Linked DNA regions of Homo sapiens. The protein of the gene in region 2 interacts with the protein of the main gene of each other region in a pairwise test. Each region holds a gene or a part of one and is shown on either strand. Other genes may lie near its edges. The genes, in order: DESI1 and SHISA5.

Evidence for each region.
Region 1: the proteins of SHISA5 (region 2) and DESI1 interact in binary tests that used the Homo sapiens proteins (3 or more experiments, as listed by UniProt).

What each region holds. Positions count from the first base shown.
Region 1 is NC_000022.11:41,610,925-41,618,558, reverse strand, and holds part of DESI1 (desumoylating isopeptidase 1), read left to right. Parts: intron 1-7,634. UniProt on the Homo sapiens protein: Protease which deconjugates SUMO1, SUMO2 and SUMO3 from some substrate proteins. Has isopeptidase but not SUMO-processing activity. Desumoylates ZBTB46. Collaborates with UBQLN4 in the export of ubiquitinated proteins from the nucleus to the cytoplasm.
Region 2 is NC_000003.12:48,493,899-48,501,532, forward strand, and holds part of SHISA5 (protein shisa-5 isoform a precursor), read right to left. Parts: intron 7,396-7,634; coding exon 7,239-7,395; intron 1-7,238. UniProt on the Homo sapiens protein: Can induce apoptosis in a caspase-dependent manner and plays a role in p53/TP53-dependent apoptosis.

The DNA.
Region 1 (7,634 bases), on a different chromosome or scaffold from region 2:
GCTAGTCAACGTGTTAAGGTAAATGAGGTTGATATAATGAACAAAGATGTTCTTTGCCATCATGGAGCTATCTAATGGGGGAGACATTAAAAATAAATACATAAATAATTAGTTACAAATTGCATAAGTGCCTTCTGCACAGGAAGCACACTGGGTGCTGTGATAGAAAATAACAAGAGAGACCTTTTTTTTTTTTTTAGACGAGTCTTGCTCTGTTGCCCAGGCTGGAGTGCAGTGGGGTGATCTCAGCTCACTGCAACCTCTGCCTCCCAGGTTCAAGTGATTCTCCTGCCTCAGCCTCCAGAGTAGCTGGGATTACAGGCGCATGCCACCACACCTGGCTGATTTTTATATTTTTAGTAGAGACAGGGTTTCACCATGTTTGCCAGGCTGGTCTTGAACTCCTGACCTCAAGTGATCCGCCCGCCTCAGCCTCCCAAAGTGCTAGGATTACAGGCATGAGCCACTGCACCCAGTGAAGAGACCTATTTTAAATAAGGGTATCAAGGGTAGTGACTTTGAAAGTGGGAATTTAGGATGAGGAAGAAGTAGCCACAGGAGGGTAGTAAGGGAGTAACAGTGTTCCAGGTAGGAGAAAGATCAACCTGCCAAAGCCCTGAGACAGGAAAGAGTCTGGCCTGATACTGGAACTGAAAGAAGGCTTTTGTGGAGTGTAGTGGGTGAAGGGGAAAGTGCTGTAACTGAAGATGGAGTAATAGACCTGCCCCCTTCCCACTCCCCGCCCTTTTATATAGATGTAAAGTCCTGGAATGCCTCAGCCAAACATGGGAACATCACCCATTCATTGGGCACATCAGATTCTGATCTGAGGAAATCACCTTGTGTGCTAATCTACTTCTGTCTTCTCTACCTCTTTTTTCCATATTGCTTTTATACCTTTTGCAAAATTAATGAAGAAAGAATTAGCAAAGCTAGTAGTCATTACTTTCTAGAGTTGAACACTTAAGGAAAATAGGCATGGTCTTACTGATTCATCCCATTCAGACAACACAAATCTTGAAGTTGGGTATGTCCCAGTGCTATAAGTAGCCATATATTGATTTCCCATTCCTAAATACATTTGAACCTTTAAAAAATCAATTTGTTTCCTGATTTTTATGATGAATTCTAGAAGTATATTAATAGCCACTATTTATTGAGAGCTTACCATGTGTCAGACCCTTTTTTTCTGAGTACTTTGCGTGCATTATAATCCTCACCACAACTTTGTGAGATAAGTCCTGTTATTGCCTCCATTTTCTTGATTGAAGAACCTGAGAAGTAGAGTGTTAAGGAATTTGCCCCAGGTCCCAGAGCTACTAGGTGGTAGAGCTGGGTTATGAACACAGGCAGTCTGACTTCCAGAGCTCGCGTTCTCTGTCATTTTGAGATACCACCTCTGTGTAATACGTTCCTTTAAAATTGAAGTAAAGTAGATGCCTTCCTGAAGTTTGTAAAGGCATCCTTTGCCAAATGTTTCAAGTTTGGATGAGAAAAAAAGCTGGGTTCAATGTGTATGTGCCACTTACAATCTAGATTTATGATCATGCCTCTTAGTCTCCATTTTCCCAAATTAAATCCATGTGATCTCATCTGCAGTACCCTCTCAGGCTTCAGTTATGTCAGTTCTCCAATGGGAGACCTCATCTAGCTCTGTCGCAGTTCAGGATTAGACTAGATAAAGCCCAAGGTAATTCCCCTTTCCTGAAGCAATGTAAATTCCGTAGTTTTAGCCTGTCCTGTTTTCAGCCTCCTGGAATTGCCTCAAGTGAAGGCATTACTGTTCTATAGCTTTTCATTCACTATGAAAAATGGTCCCAAAATTATCTTCAGCATTCTAATTGAGCAGATAGCCTCATTGCACCTTTTTTCATAGTCACCAATTGCCTAAAATAATTAGCTATTATAAGTGTCCTTCAGTTCCTCCTCTTAATAATTTTGGCTGCTCTTTAAGTTTCTTGACCTCTTTTTGTGCCACAGTACATGCAGAAGTGTGTGTGTGTGTGTGTGTGTGTGTGTGTGTGTGTGTGTGTTTTAATTGTGGTAAGAAGTACTTCATATTTGTTTATTATTTTCTGATCAGAAGTTTCGTGTACATGCATCACGTTTATTTTTCTTTACAAGCCCATTTCAAAACTGTTTTCAGACTTAAAGATTTGGAGACATAGAATATATAAATTGCTTGGCAGAATGAATTCTAATGAATATTAGAGATTTTACACTATACTCAATTCTTTACTTCATTTTGTAGTACAAATAGTAATGAAATAAAAGATATGACGTGAACTCTGTCCTCCAGGAATTTTTCTTTTTTTGAGGCAGAGTTTCACTCTTGTTGCCCAGGCTGGAGTGTAATGACACGATCTCGGCTCACTGCAACCTCCGCCTCCTGGGTTCAGGCAGTTCTCCTGCCTCAGCCTCCCAAGGAGCTGGGATTACAGACATGTGCCACCATGTCCAGCTAATTTTTCTATTTTTAATAGAGACTGGGTTCCACCATGTTGGTCAGGCTGGTCTCAAACTCCTGATCTCAGGCGATCCACCCACCTTAGCTTCCCAAAATGCTGAACAAACCCCCCTCCCAAAGTAAGGCATGAGTCACCATGCCCAGCCCAGGAGTTTTTCTTAAAATATTATTTTCCTTTAAATAATGAATGTACACATATAACATTTGATAACAATATAAAACAGATTATGATTAGGTGCCAAAGTGAGTGAGTGGTGCATGAACTATGTTAGGCTTTGAAATAAGAGAGGCCATGGTGAGCTGAGCATGTCAGAGAGGCTTTGGCAAGAGCCTGGAGCTCCTGGAGGGCAAGGACTCTGTCCCCTTCCTATATGTCCCCAGTGGCCTGTTGGAGCAGGTGTTCAGTAAGTATTGATTATAGAAATGATTGAGACTTGAACTTAAGCTTGAAGATTAAGTAAAATTTATTCAAATCTGAGAGAGGTTTTTTCTGTTTTAATGCCATCTATTGTGCTTTGTTTTTGATTTTTGTTCACTGTGTGAACTGTTTTATACTCATCTAATGAATTAATTTAATAATCATTCAATTTCTTTAAGGCAAAATGGAAAGGAATATGGCTTACAAGGCCCTGCGTGATTCTGCTTTTTTAAATTTTCTTTTTTTTTTTGAGACAGAGTCTTGTTGTGTGCCCAGGCTGGAGTGCAGTGGCGCGTGCCTCCCAGGTTCATGCCATTCTCCTGCCTCAGCCTGCTGAGTAGCTGGGATTACAGGCGCCCGCCACCGTGCCTGGCTAATTTTTTTTTTTTTTTTTTTTTTTTAATTTTTAGTAGAGACGGGGTTTCACCGTGTTAGCCGGGATGGTCTCGATCTCCTGACCTCGTGATCCTCCCGCCTCGGCCTCCCGAAGTGCTGGGATTACAGGCTTGAGCCACCGCGCCCGGCCTGTATTTTTTTTTAGAAGAGACGGGGTTTCACCATGTTAGCCAGGATGGACTTGATCTCCTGACCTCGTGATCCGCCCGCCTCAGCCTCCAAAAGTGCTGGGATTACAGGCGTGAGCCACTGCATGTGGCCTGACCAGTGGTTTTCAAATGCTCTTTAGCTGTGAAACTCTTCCTTGAAATGAAATCTTCTGCAGATATGCATGTGGAAAACAGGTGAAAAGGAACTTTTTTGTTAAAAAAAAAAAAAAGAAGAAGAAAACAAGGTGGGGTGAGGTGGCTTATGCCTGTAATCCCAGCACTCTGGGAGGCCAAGGCGGGTGGATCACCTGAGGTCAGGAGTTTAAGACCAGCCTGGCCAAGATAGTGAAACCCCATCTCTACTAAAAATACAAAAATTAACTGGGCACGGTGGCGCATGCCTGTAATCCCAGCTACTCGGGAAGCTGAGGCAGGAGAATCGCTTGAACTCGGAGGGCAGAGGTTGCAGTGAGCCGAGATCATGCCACTGCACTTCAGCCTGGGTGATAGAGTGAGACTCCATCTCAAAAAAAAAAAAGGATGTAGGCCGGGCACAGTAGCTCACACCTATAATCCCAGCTACTTGGGAGGCTGAGGCAGAAGAATCACTTGAACCCCGGAGACGGAGGTTGCAGTGAGCCGAGATCACGCCACTGCACTCCAGCCTGGGAAACAAAGTGAGACTCTGTCTCAAAAGGAAAAAAGAAAGGATGTAAATTCACTCAATTCATTTTTAATGTTATTGTTGGCTCCAAGTGTTTGGTGGATGAATGAATAAGTGAAAGAATGAACAGGCTGGGTGCAGTGGTTAACCCCTGTAATCCCTGCACTTTGGGAGACCGAGGCGGGTAGATCACAAGGTCAGGAGTTTGAGACCAGCCTGGCCAGCATGGAGAAACCCCGTCTCTACTAAAAATACAAAAAATTAGCCGGGCATGGTGGCGAGCTCCTGTAATCCCAGCTACTCGGGAGGCTGAGGCAGGAGAATTGCTTGAACCCGGGAGGCGGGGGTTGTAGTGAGCCATGATTGCACCGCTGCACCCCAGCCTGGACAACAGAGCGAGACTCCGTCTTAAAAAAAAAAAGAAAGAATGAATAAATAAGGGGATCTTTTTTCTATAGTCCCTATCTCCACTCTATGAATGGATGAGATCCTAAGTGTACCTTGATGCAGTTGAATAGGAAGTGTGGCGTGTAGCTTACAGGCAAATTCAGTGATGATACAAAGGATATAAAGGAGAATAAAGTAGGGTTTGTATCCTGCAACTTTTGAGTTGTTTTTCAGGTGTGAAATAACTGAGGCCCCTCTTCAAAAATCTGTTTAGTAGGAATGGGTTTGAGCTGATGATACATCCATACCTGCCAGCTGTACTCCTGAGTCAGTGAGCATGCGCATCTGAGAAGACAGCAGTAGACTGGGAGTGCAGTATGCCAGGGTGGCAGAGTCATTGCAATAACAAGCCAGGCAGCCCAGATTGGGGTTAGGAACTTTGTCCTCAATAGCACTGTGTGTCAACCAACAAAGCTAACTAAACAGAACAGCTCATCTCAACAGATGTTCATGTCACATCTCAGGACCAGGTCCTTTGCTAGGTGCTGGAGTTATAAAGATACATAAGAAACTGTCCTGGTTACTGAGGCAACTGTAGTCTAACTGGGGAGAAGGACACGTGAATAGTTTCAATACCAGGGTACTATGAGAACAACTATAAAACTTTCAAATTATAAACCCTAGAAGAAATGAGTTAGCCTTTATTGGGCATGTATTATGTCCCAGACCCTGTGCTACGCATGTGTCATGTATCGTCTCTTTTAATCCTGGAAATGTTATGAGGCAGGCAGTGTTATTATGCTTTTTTTTACAGAATAGGAAACTATAGTTTAAACAGTGCGTCCAATAGAACTTTCTGCAGTGATGGAAATGTTCTAGATCTGCACTGTCCAGTAAGTAAACACTAGTCACATGTGGCTATTGAATACCTAAAATGTGGTTAGTGGAACTGAGGGACTGAATTTGTGCATTTATTTAACTTAAATAGCCACATGTGGTCAGTGGTCACCATATTGGACAGCTCAGGCTTAGTGTTCTCAGCCTCTGCAGTGTTCTCTGTGATCTGGTCCTCCATTACCTCTGGTCATCTTCTACTTCCCCTCCTCACCCATTCTAACTTCACTGGCCTCCTTACAGGCCTTCAGATAAACCTGGCATGTCATTGCCCCTGCATCCCTCTTTCCCTTGCCTCCTTTAAATCTTGGCTCAAAGCTGGGCCTGGTGGCTCACGCCTGGAGGTGGGAGGATCACTTGAGCCCAGTAGTTCAAGTCCAGGCTTGACAACATAGGGAGACGCCGTCTCAAAAAAAAAAAAAAAAAAGTAGGCCTGGGTGGTACACATATAGTCTCAGCAACTGGGAAGCTGAAGTGGGAGGATCACTTGAGCCTGGGAGGTCAAGGCTGCAGTGAGCTTTGATCGCGTTACTGCACTCCACCCTGAGTAGCAGAGCAAGACCCTGTCTCAAAAAAAAAAAAAAAATCTTCACTCAAATATCACATTCTCAAAGAGGCCCACCCTGATCATCCCTGAAACTCCCTTAACCTACTCTTTTTTTTTTTTTTCTTTTTTTGAGACAAGAGTTTTGTTCTTGTCGCCCAGGCTGGAGTGCAGTGGTGCAATCGCAGCTCACTGCAACACCTCCCGGGTTCAAGTGATTCTTCTGTCTCAGCCTCCCGAGTAGCTAGAATTACAGGTGTGTGCCACCATGCCTGGCTAATTTTTGTACTTTTAGTAGAGATGGGGTTTCACCATGTTGGCCAGGCTGGTCTCGAACTCCTGACCTCAGGTGATCCGCCCGCCTCTGCCTCCCAAAGCGCTCGGATTACAGGCGTGAGCCACTACGCCCAGACCCCCTTAACCTACTCTTGTTCGTTCTATACCATTCACTATTGCTAACATGTTATGACTTATTATCATCATTATTATTATTGACTGTCCCCTCCCCCCACCTAGTAAGTGTCATGAAGGAGGTTTTTGTTTACTGATGTATCCTTAGTGCCAAGGATAGTGCCTGGAAGGTAGTAGTCACTCAATAAACCATTAGTTCACCGTTTAAGCCAGTAGGATTCACACCCAACCTGTCTACACCAGAACCTGTGTTCTTATTCACTATATTGTACTTCCTCCTTGTAAGCGTAGCATTCCTCACAAAGTAAATGAGAAAAGCTTCATTTGAAAGGAACAGGGGCCAGGCGCGGTAGCTCACGCCTGTAATCCCAGCACTTTGGGAGGCCGAGGCGGGCGGATCACGAGGTCAGGAGTTTAAGACCAGCCTGGCCAACATGGTGAAACCCCATATCTACTAAAAATAGAAAAATTAGCCAGGCGTGGTGGTGAGCGCCTGTAGTCCCAGCTACTTAGGAGGCTGAGGCAGGAGAATCACTTGAACCTGGGAGGCGGAGGTTACAGTCAGCCAAGATCACACCATCGTACTCCAGCCTGGGCAACAGAGTGAGACTGTCTCAAAAAAAAAAAAAAAAAAAAAGAAGGAACAGGTAAGAGAAAGCAGGTATCCTTAATTTCTCCAGTTTCACTGAACTATTAAATGTCTTCACGTAAATAAACAAATTGCAGCCATTTAAACAGCTGATTTATAAATGACAGTTCAGAAGGGCACATCAGCTCTATTTAAAATGCAGTGTTAGGCCACATAGAGTGGCTCACACCTGTAATCCCAGTACTTTGGGAGGCTGAGGAGGGCAGATCTCCTGAGGTCAGGAGTTCGAGACCAGCCTGGGCAACATGGTGAAACCCAATCTCTACTAAAAATACAGAAATTAGCTGGGCATGGTGGCGCACACCTGTAATCCCAGCCTGTACTTGGGAGTCTGAGGCACCAGAATTGCTTGAGCCCAGGAGGCGGAGGTTGCAGTGAGCCAAGATCGTGCCACTGCACTCCAACCTAGGCAATAGAGTGAGACTCTGTCTCAAAAAAAGGAATGTTAGTCTCCCCATTTTACATATAGTAAACAGGAAAGAGGAGATTTAGTATCTTATAGCCCAGTGGAACCCAGGGTTTGAAGATGCTCGTCCTAAATGGATTACCACTCCCCTTTGGCATCCAGTCTGGTTCTCATCAACCACTGTGAAATTTCACCTCAGTTTGGATAAGGTCAGAACCTGCCTCACATTCTTTAGGGTGCTATCCCCAG
Region 2 (7,634 bases):
GTATATATTGAATGGCTAAATTGAGGTAATTAGCATATGCATTACTTCACGTACTTACCTTTTTTTGTGGTGAGAACACTCAAAATCTACTTCCTTAGCAATTTTCAAGTATACAACATATTATTATAAACTATAGTCACCATTATGATGTACAATAGATCTCTTGAACTTACTCCTCCTAAGTGAAATTTTGTGTCCTTTGACCAACATCTCCCTAATCCTGCCACCTCCTAGTCTCCGGTTACCACCATTTTATTCTGTTTCTATGAGTTTGACTTTGACACTCCACATATAAGTGAGATGGTGCTGTATTTGTCTTTCTGCGCCTAGCTTATTTCACTTAACATAATGTTCTCCAGGTACATCCATGTCATCATAAATGACAGGATTTCTGGATTTCCTTTTTTTTTTTTTTTTTGAGATGGAGTTTCACTCTGTTGCCAGGCTAGAGTGCAGTGGCATGATCTCAGCTCACTGCAACCTCCGCCTCCCGAGTTCAAGGGATTCTCCTGCCTCAGCCTCCAGAGTAGCTGGGATTACAGGCGTGCACCACCACCAGCTAATTTTTGTATTTTTAGTAGAAACGTGGTTTCACCATGTTGGCCAGGATGGTCTCGATCTCCTGACCTCGTGATCCACCCCCCCTTGGCCTCCCAAAGTGCTGGGATTACAGGCGTGAGCCACTGCACCCAGCCAATTTCCTTCTTTTTAAGGCTGAATAGTATTTCGCTGTGTACATATACCACATTTTCTTTATCCATTTATCCTGATGGACAGGTAGATTGATTGCATACTTTGGCTATTGTGATAATGCTGCAATGAACAAGGGAGAGCAGGTATCTCTTTGGGGTATGGATTTCATATCCTTTGGATATATACGCAGTGATGGGATGGCTGGATCATATGCACATGGTAGCTCTATTTTTAATTTTTGGGGGACCCTCCTACTTTTTTCCATGACAATGATTTATATCTGGTCTAGCATGTTGTATACATGAAATGTATACATCTGTTAAAACTCATCAAACTGAAACATGAAAGATCTGTGCATTTTACTGTATGTAATTATATATCTATTTTTTTTTCTTTTTAGAGACTGAGTCTTGCTATGTTGCCCAGGCTAGCCTCCAACTCCTGGGCTCAAGCGATCCTCCTACCTCAGCCTCCCAAAGTGCTGGGATTACAGGTGTGAGCCACTCCACCTAGCCTATATCTCAATATTTTGAAAAAGATTTATAATCCAAGTTTTGAAGAGGATGTAGAGCAAACTGGAACCCTCACATATGGCTGGTGGGAGTACAAATGGCACATTTATAACATGTTGGAAAGCTGTTTGGAAGTTATCTGCCTAAACTGAACACATTCACATAATAACTTAGTAATTCCACTCCTAGATACATACCCAGAAAAAATATGTTCCTTTTACGACGCTTTTTTTTTTTTTTTAATAGAGAGGGAGTCTCGCTCTGTCACCCAGGCTGGAGTGAAGTGGCTCAAAAAAAAAAAAAAATTGATTGCTTGTTCAGTGGGTGGGGAGAAACTCCCATACATTTGGTCACAGAAATCTTGTGTTGATTGTTCTGGTGTGAGAGAATAGAAGAAGCACTCTGAGTTTTTTTTTCCACTTTTTTCGGGGGCAGGGATGGAGTCTCTCTCTCTGTTGCCCAGGCTAGAGTACAGTGACACAATATCAGCTCACTGCAACCTCCGCCTCCTGGGTTCAAGCCATTCTCATGCCTCACCCTCCCAAGTGGCTAAGACTACAGGTGCATGCCACCACGCCTGGCTAATTTTTGTATTTTTTAGTAGAGACAGGGTTTCACTGTGTTGGCCAGCCTGATCTCGAACTCCAGACCTCGTGATCTGCCCACCTCAGCCTTCCAAAGTGTTGGGATTACAGGCGTGAGCCACCACACCCAAACAGTTTTCCACATTTATGTATCAATAAACAATTAGAAAATAAAAATTGTGGCCGGGTGCAGTGGCTCACACCTGTAATCCCAGAACTTTGGGAGGCCAAGGAGGGCAGATCACTTGAGGTCAGGAGTTCAAGAGCAGACTAACCAACATGGTAAAACCCCATCTCAACTAAAAATACAAAAATTAGGCCGGGCGCAGTGGCTCAAGCCTGTAATCCCAGCACTTTGGGAGGCCGAGGCAGGCGGATCACAAGGTCAGGCGTTCGAGACCAGCCTGGCCAACATGGTGAAACCCCATCTCTGCTAAAAAAAAAAAATGCAAAGATTAGCTGGGCATGGAGGCGTTCCCCTGTAATCCCAGCTACTCAAGAGGCTGAGGCAGGAGAATCACTTGAACCCGGGAAGCGGAGGTTGCAGTGAGCCGAGATTGTGCCACTGTACTCCAGCCTGGGCAACAGAGTGCGACTCCGTCAAAAAAAAAAATACAAAAATTAGGCCGGGTGCAGTGGCTCATGCCTGTAATCCCAGCACTTTGGGAGGCCGAGGCAGGTGGTTCACAAGGTCAGGAGATCGAGACCATCCTGGCTAACATGGTGAAACCCCGTCTCTACTAAAAATAATACAAAAAATTAGCCAGGCGTGGTGGCAGGTGCCTGTAGTCCCGGCTACATGGGAGGCTGAGGCGGATGGATCACCTGAGGTCGGGAGCTCGAGACCAGCCTGGCCAACATGATGAAACCCCGTCTCTACTAAAAATACAAAAAAATTTAGCTGGGCGAGGTGGCAGGCCCCTGTAATCCCAGCTACTTGGGAGGCTGAGGCAGTAGAATCGCTTGAACCCGGGAGGCAGAGGTTGCAGTAAGCCGTGATCACGCCATCACACTCCAATCTGGGGACAAGAGCTAGACTTCGTCTCAAAAAAAAAAAGAAAAGAAATTTAAACTACACTATTTATAATACCATAAAAAAAAACAAAGGAAAAAATGAAACATATATAAGACTTTGAAATAGAAAAAATATTATATAATAGAAAATTGAGAGAGAAGGAAAGAAAACTAAATACAAGAGCAGAAATACCATGTTAATGCATTGGAAAACTCAATATAGTAAAATGTCAATTCCACAGAAATGGCCAGGTGTGGTGGCTCACACCTGTGATCCCAGCACTTTGGGAGGCTGAGGCGGGTGGATCACCTGAGGCCAAGAGTTTGAGACCAGCCTGGGTAATCTGGTGAAACCCCATCTCTATTAAAAATACAAAAAACTTAGCTGGGTGTGGTGGCAGGCACCTGTAATTCCAGCTACTCTGGAGGCTGAGGCAGGGGAATCACTTGAACCCAGGAGGCAGAGGTTGCAGTGAGCCGAGATCATGCCATTGTTCTCCAGTCTGCTGTCTGTCTTGCTACTTCTTGTGGGGTTAACGGTCTTAAGGCTTCCAGAACAAGTTTTTTTTTTTTTTTTTTTTTGACGGAGTCTCGCTCTGTCACCCAGGCTGGAGTGCAGTGGCATGATCTTGGCTCACTGCAACCTCCGCCTCCTGGGTTCAAGCAATTCTCTGCCTCAGGCTCCTGAGTAGCTGGGATTACAGGCACCCACCACCATGCCCAGCTAATTTTTGTATTTTTAGTAGAGATGGGGTTTCCCCATCTTGGCCAGGCAGGTCTTGATCTCCTGACCTCGTGACCCACCCGCCTCAGCCTCCCAAAGTGCTGGGATTACAGGTGTGAGCCACCGCACCCGGCCAGAAAAAAACAATCTTAAAAAGCAATCGGAGGGTTAAAAAAAAAGAGGGATTTCAGCTAGGTGCACCTGTAATCTCAGCACTTTGGGAGGTCGAGGTGGGAGGATCACTTGAGCCCAGGAGTTTAAGACAAGCCTGGGCAACATAGGGAGACCCTGTCTCTACAAAAAGTAAACAAAATTAGCCAGGCATGGTGGCAGGCACCTGTAATCCCAGCTACTTGGAAAGCTGAGGTAGGAGGATATGCTTCAGCCCAGGAGGCTGAGAGTGACATGAGCCAGTGACTGCACCACTGCACTCCAGCCTGGGCAACAGAGTGAGACTGTCTCAAAAAAAAAAAAGAAGAGAGAGAGAGAGATTTCTTTCAATGAGAGACACTGGCTGTTGAGTTGATGTCTCAACAGAAACAATGGAAGCCGGGAGACAGTAGAATGGAAGCTTCAATATGCTAAGAAAAAATAACCATCAACCTAAGCTCTATACTCACATAAAATAGTGTTTTAGAGAGTAATATAATTTACCATATTAACAGAATAAAAATTTTAAAATCATACAGTCATCTCTACAAATGCACAAAAAGCATTTGACATAATTCAACATCCATCCATAATTAAAACTCTAGGTGTACTAGAAATGCAGAGAACTTCCTCAACCTGATAAAGGACACCTATGAAAAAGCCACAGCTGACATCCTTCCTACTAGTGAAAAACTGAATGTCTTCCCCCTAAACTCGGAAACAAGACACAGATGTCTGCTTTCTCCACTTCTACTCAACATTGTAACTGAGGGCCTAGCCAACACAATAAGGCAAGAAAAAGAAATAAGACATTCAGAATAGGAAAGAAGGCTGGGGGCAGTGGCTCATGCCTGTAATTCTAGCACTTTGGGAGTCCGAGGCAGACAGATTGCCTGAGCTCAGTAGTTCGAGACCAACCTGGGCAACACAGTGAAACCCTGTCTCTACTAAAATACAAAAAATTAGCCAGGCGTGGCAGCATGCACTTGTGGTCCCAGCTACATGGGAAGCTGAGGCAGGATAATTGCTTGAACCTGGCAGGTGGAGGTTGCCGTGAGATGAGATCACGCGCCACTGCACTCCAGCCTGGGAGACACAGACTGTCTCCAGAAAGAAAAAAAAAAAAAAAAAAAAGACAGAATGGAAAAGAAGAAGTAACAGTCGAAGAAAAATATGGCGTAAAAACAAATCGAAACAATACAGGAAGTAAAAAAAGGATAATGCATACGGGCGCGGTGGCTCACGCCTGTAATCCCAGCACTTTGGGAGGCCGAGGCAGGAGGATCACCTGAGGTCGGGAGTTCAAGACCAGCCTGGCCAACACGGTGAAACCCTGTCTCTACTAAAAAATACAAAATTAGCCGGGCGTGGTGGCACATGCCTGTAATCCCAGCTACTCAGGAGGCTGAGGCAGGAGAATTGTTTGAACTCAGGAGGTGGAGGTTGTGGTGAGCCAAGAACACACCATTGCACTCCAGCCTGGGCAACAAGAACGAAACTCCATCTCAAAAAAAAAAAAAAAAAAGATAATGCAGGAGAGACAAATAGCACAAAAGATGCAAATATAACCCCAGAATATCAATAACTACATTAAATTAATTAATTAATTTATTTTTGAGTCGAGGTCTCACTCTGTTGCCCAGGCTGGAGTGCAGTGGCACCAATCACGACTTACTGCAGTCTCAACCTGCTAGGTTCAAGTGATCCTCCTACCTCAGCTTCCCAAAGTACTGGGCTTACAGGCATGAGCCACAGCAACCCCCGGCCCTCTACATTAAATTTAAATGGAATAAATGCTCCTGCTTTTAAAAAAAGAAATACCATCAGGCGCGGTGGCTCATGCCTGTTATCCCAGCACTTTGGCAGGCCAAGATGGGCAGATCACCTGAGGTCAGGAGTTCAAGACCAGCTTGGTGAACATGGTGAAACCCCATCTCTAGTAAAAATACAAAAATTAGGCCGGGCGTGGTGGCGGGCGCCTGTAGTTCCAGCTACTTGGGAGGCTGAGGTAGGAGAATGGCGTGAACCTGGGAGGCGGAGCTTGCAGTGAGCCAAGATCGCACCACCACATTCCAGCCTGCAGCCTGGGTGACAGAGCGAGACTCTGTCTAAAAAAAAAAAAATACAAAAATACAAAAATTAGCCAGGTGTGGTGGTGCACGCCTATAATCCCAGCTACTCGGGAGGCTGAGGCAGGAGAATTGCTTGAACCCGGGAGGCGGAGGTTGCGGTGAGCCGAGATCACATTATTGCACTCCAACCTGGGCAACAGAAGTGAGACTCCGTCTCAAAAAAAAAAAAAAAAAAAAAGCCAAAAGGTGAAGTGAAAGGGTGAAAGGGTAGAAGAAGACCTGTCAGGAACCCTCAGGCAGGACTGACAGGTGTGCAGCCCTGTGCACCACTCCCAAGAGCACCTGGAAGTCCTTAGTGGATAACTGTGTGCATCTATGACATGGCAACTCCACAACCAGATGTGTTTCCAAGAGAATTCTTACACAGCTCCATAAAAGGAGGTATACCAGATGCCCACTGAAGCTATCTATCATGACAACCATTGTGGATTCACACCATTCAGAGGGACACAGCAGTAGTGGGCAAGGGCCAGATGTGCCACAGCAATGTGGCTAGGTCTTACACTACACCGACTTTGCAAGAACTCAAATAATGAAAAGGATGTACCTTATACATAGCAGACCATAGCAGACGGTTGCCTGTGGGGTGGGAAAGGAATGAAATGGTCCTGACATATTAAAGTAAATATATAGGCCAGGCATGGTGGTGCACACCTATAGTTCCAGCTACTCAGGAGGCTGAGGGAGGAGGATGGCTTGAGCCCAGGAGTATGAGACCAGCCTGGGCAACATGGTGAGACTCCATCTCACAAAAATAAATATGTAAGATAGCGGGGGTTGGTCTTGCCCAGACCCAGGATGATCACCTGCCATGAGCAGAGGAGTATGACCATCTCAACCCTCTACACCGAGGCCAAACACAAAGGAAATACAGAATACGGCAAAGAGCCACACACAGGGGCCTGGAACCTTGGTCCCAGCCATGAAACAGTCTACACCCAACATGCAGGTAAATTCATAGGCTGCGCTGGGAGGACACAGATAGAGCTCACACTGGGGCACATGCTTACGCACTGCACCCTACAGGCTCCACAAGCGGGTTCTGAACAAAGGATACCCCTCAGGGGCATGCGCATACTGTGGGGTATAGTCAAGCCCAAGTACCCACCCTGAGGACATCTTGGCACAGGTACACACCCGGGGTGAGTCACAGGACCAGCTGAGGCCAAGGACCTCTAAGAAACCTGCTCAGCCCAAGGCTCAGCAAGCTGGAGCCCTCAGGGTAGGGAGGAGATGGACAGGGGACTAACTGAGCAGGTCTAGGGGGTCCAGCCCAGAACAGGGGATCCCTAAACCCTCTGCTCCAATGCTCTGGCCACCATCTTGAGAGGGCTGAGAGGCCAGAGGGGCAGAGCTATCTCTCTTCCACATACTCTCCTGTGGGGCACAGGCTCAAGCCACCCACCCTGTGACCCACTGGTGCACCCACCTGGCCTCAGGCACAGCACACCTTTCCTCGCTCCACACAAATTTCTTCAGCACGTCAGAGCAGCAGTATTGGTCATCACAGGTACCACAGCAGAAATCTGGACAGGACTCGGGGAAGAGGCTGAGTCCACGGGAAGCCATACACACCTCACCACGTGCTGGAGAGGAGAAACACATCTGTTCACCTGTGCCCACGGGCCAGGCCCCAGCAGACACAGCGCCCTCCCTGGCACAGCCACCAGACCACACACACACACACATGCTGCACCGTCTCTGAGCCACCCTAGCCACAGGCCACCTTCTGACCCCTGGCCACTGCTCCCCCTCAGCCTTGCCCTATCCCACGGGCCACAACAGAGCTGCCCTAACTGGGCTCCCTCTCTCCCTCACCAGTGCA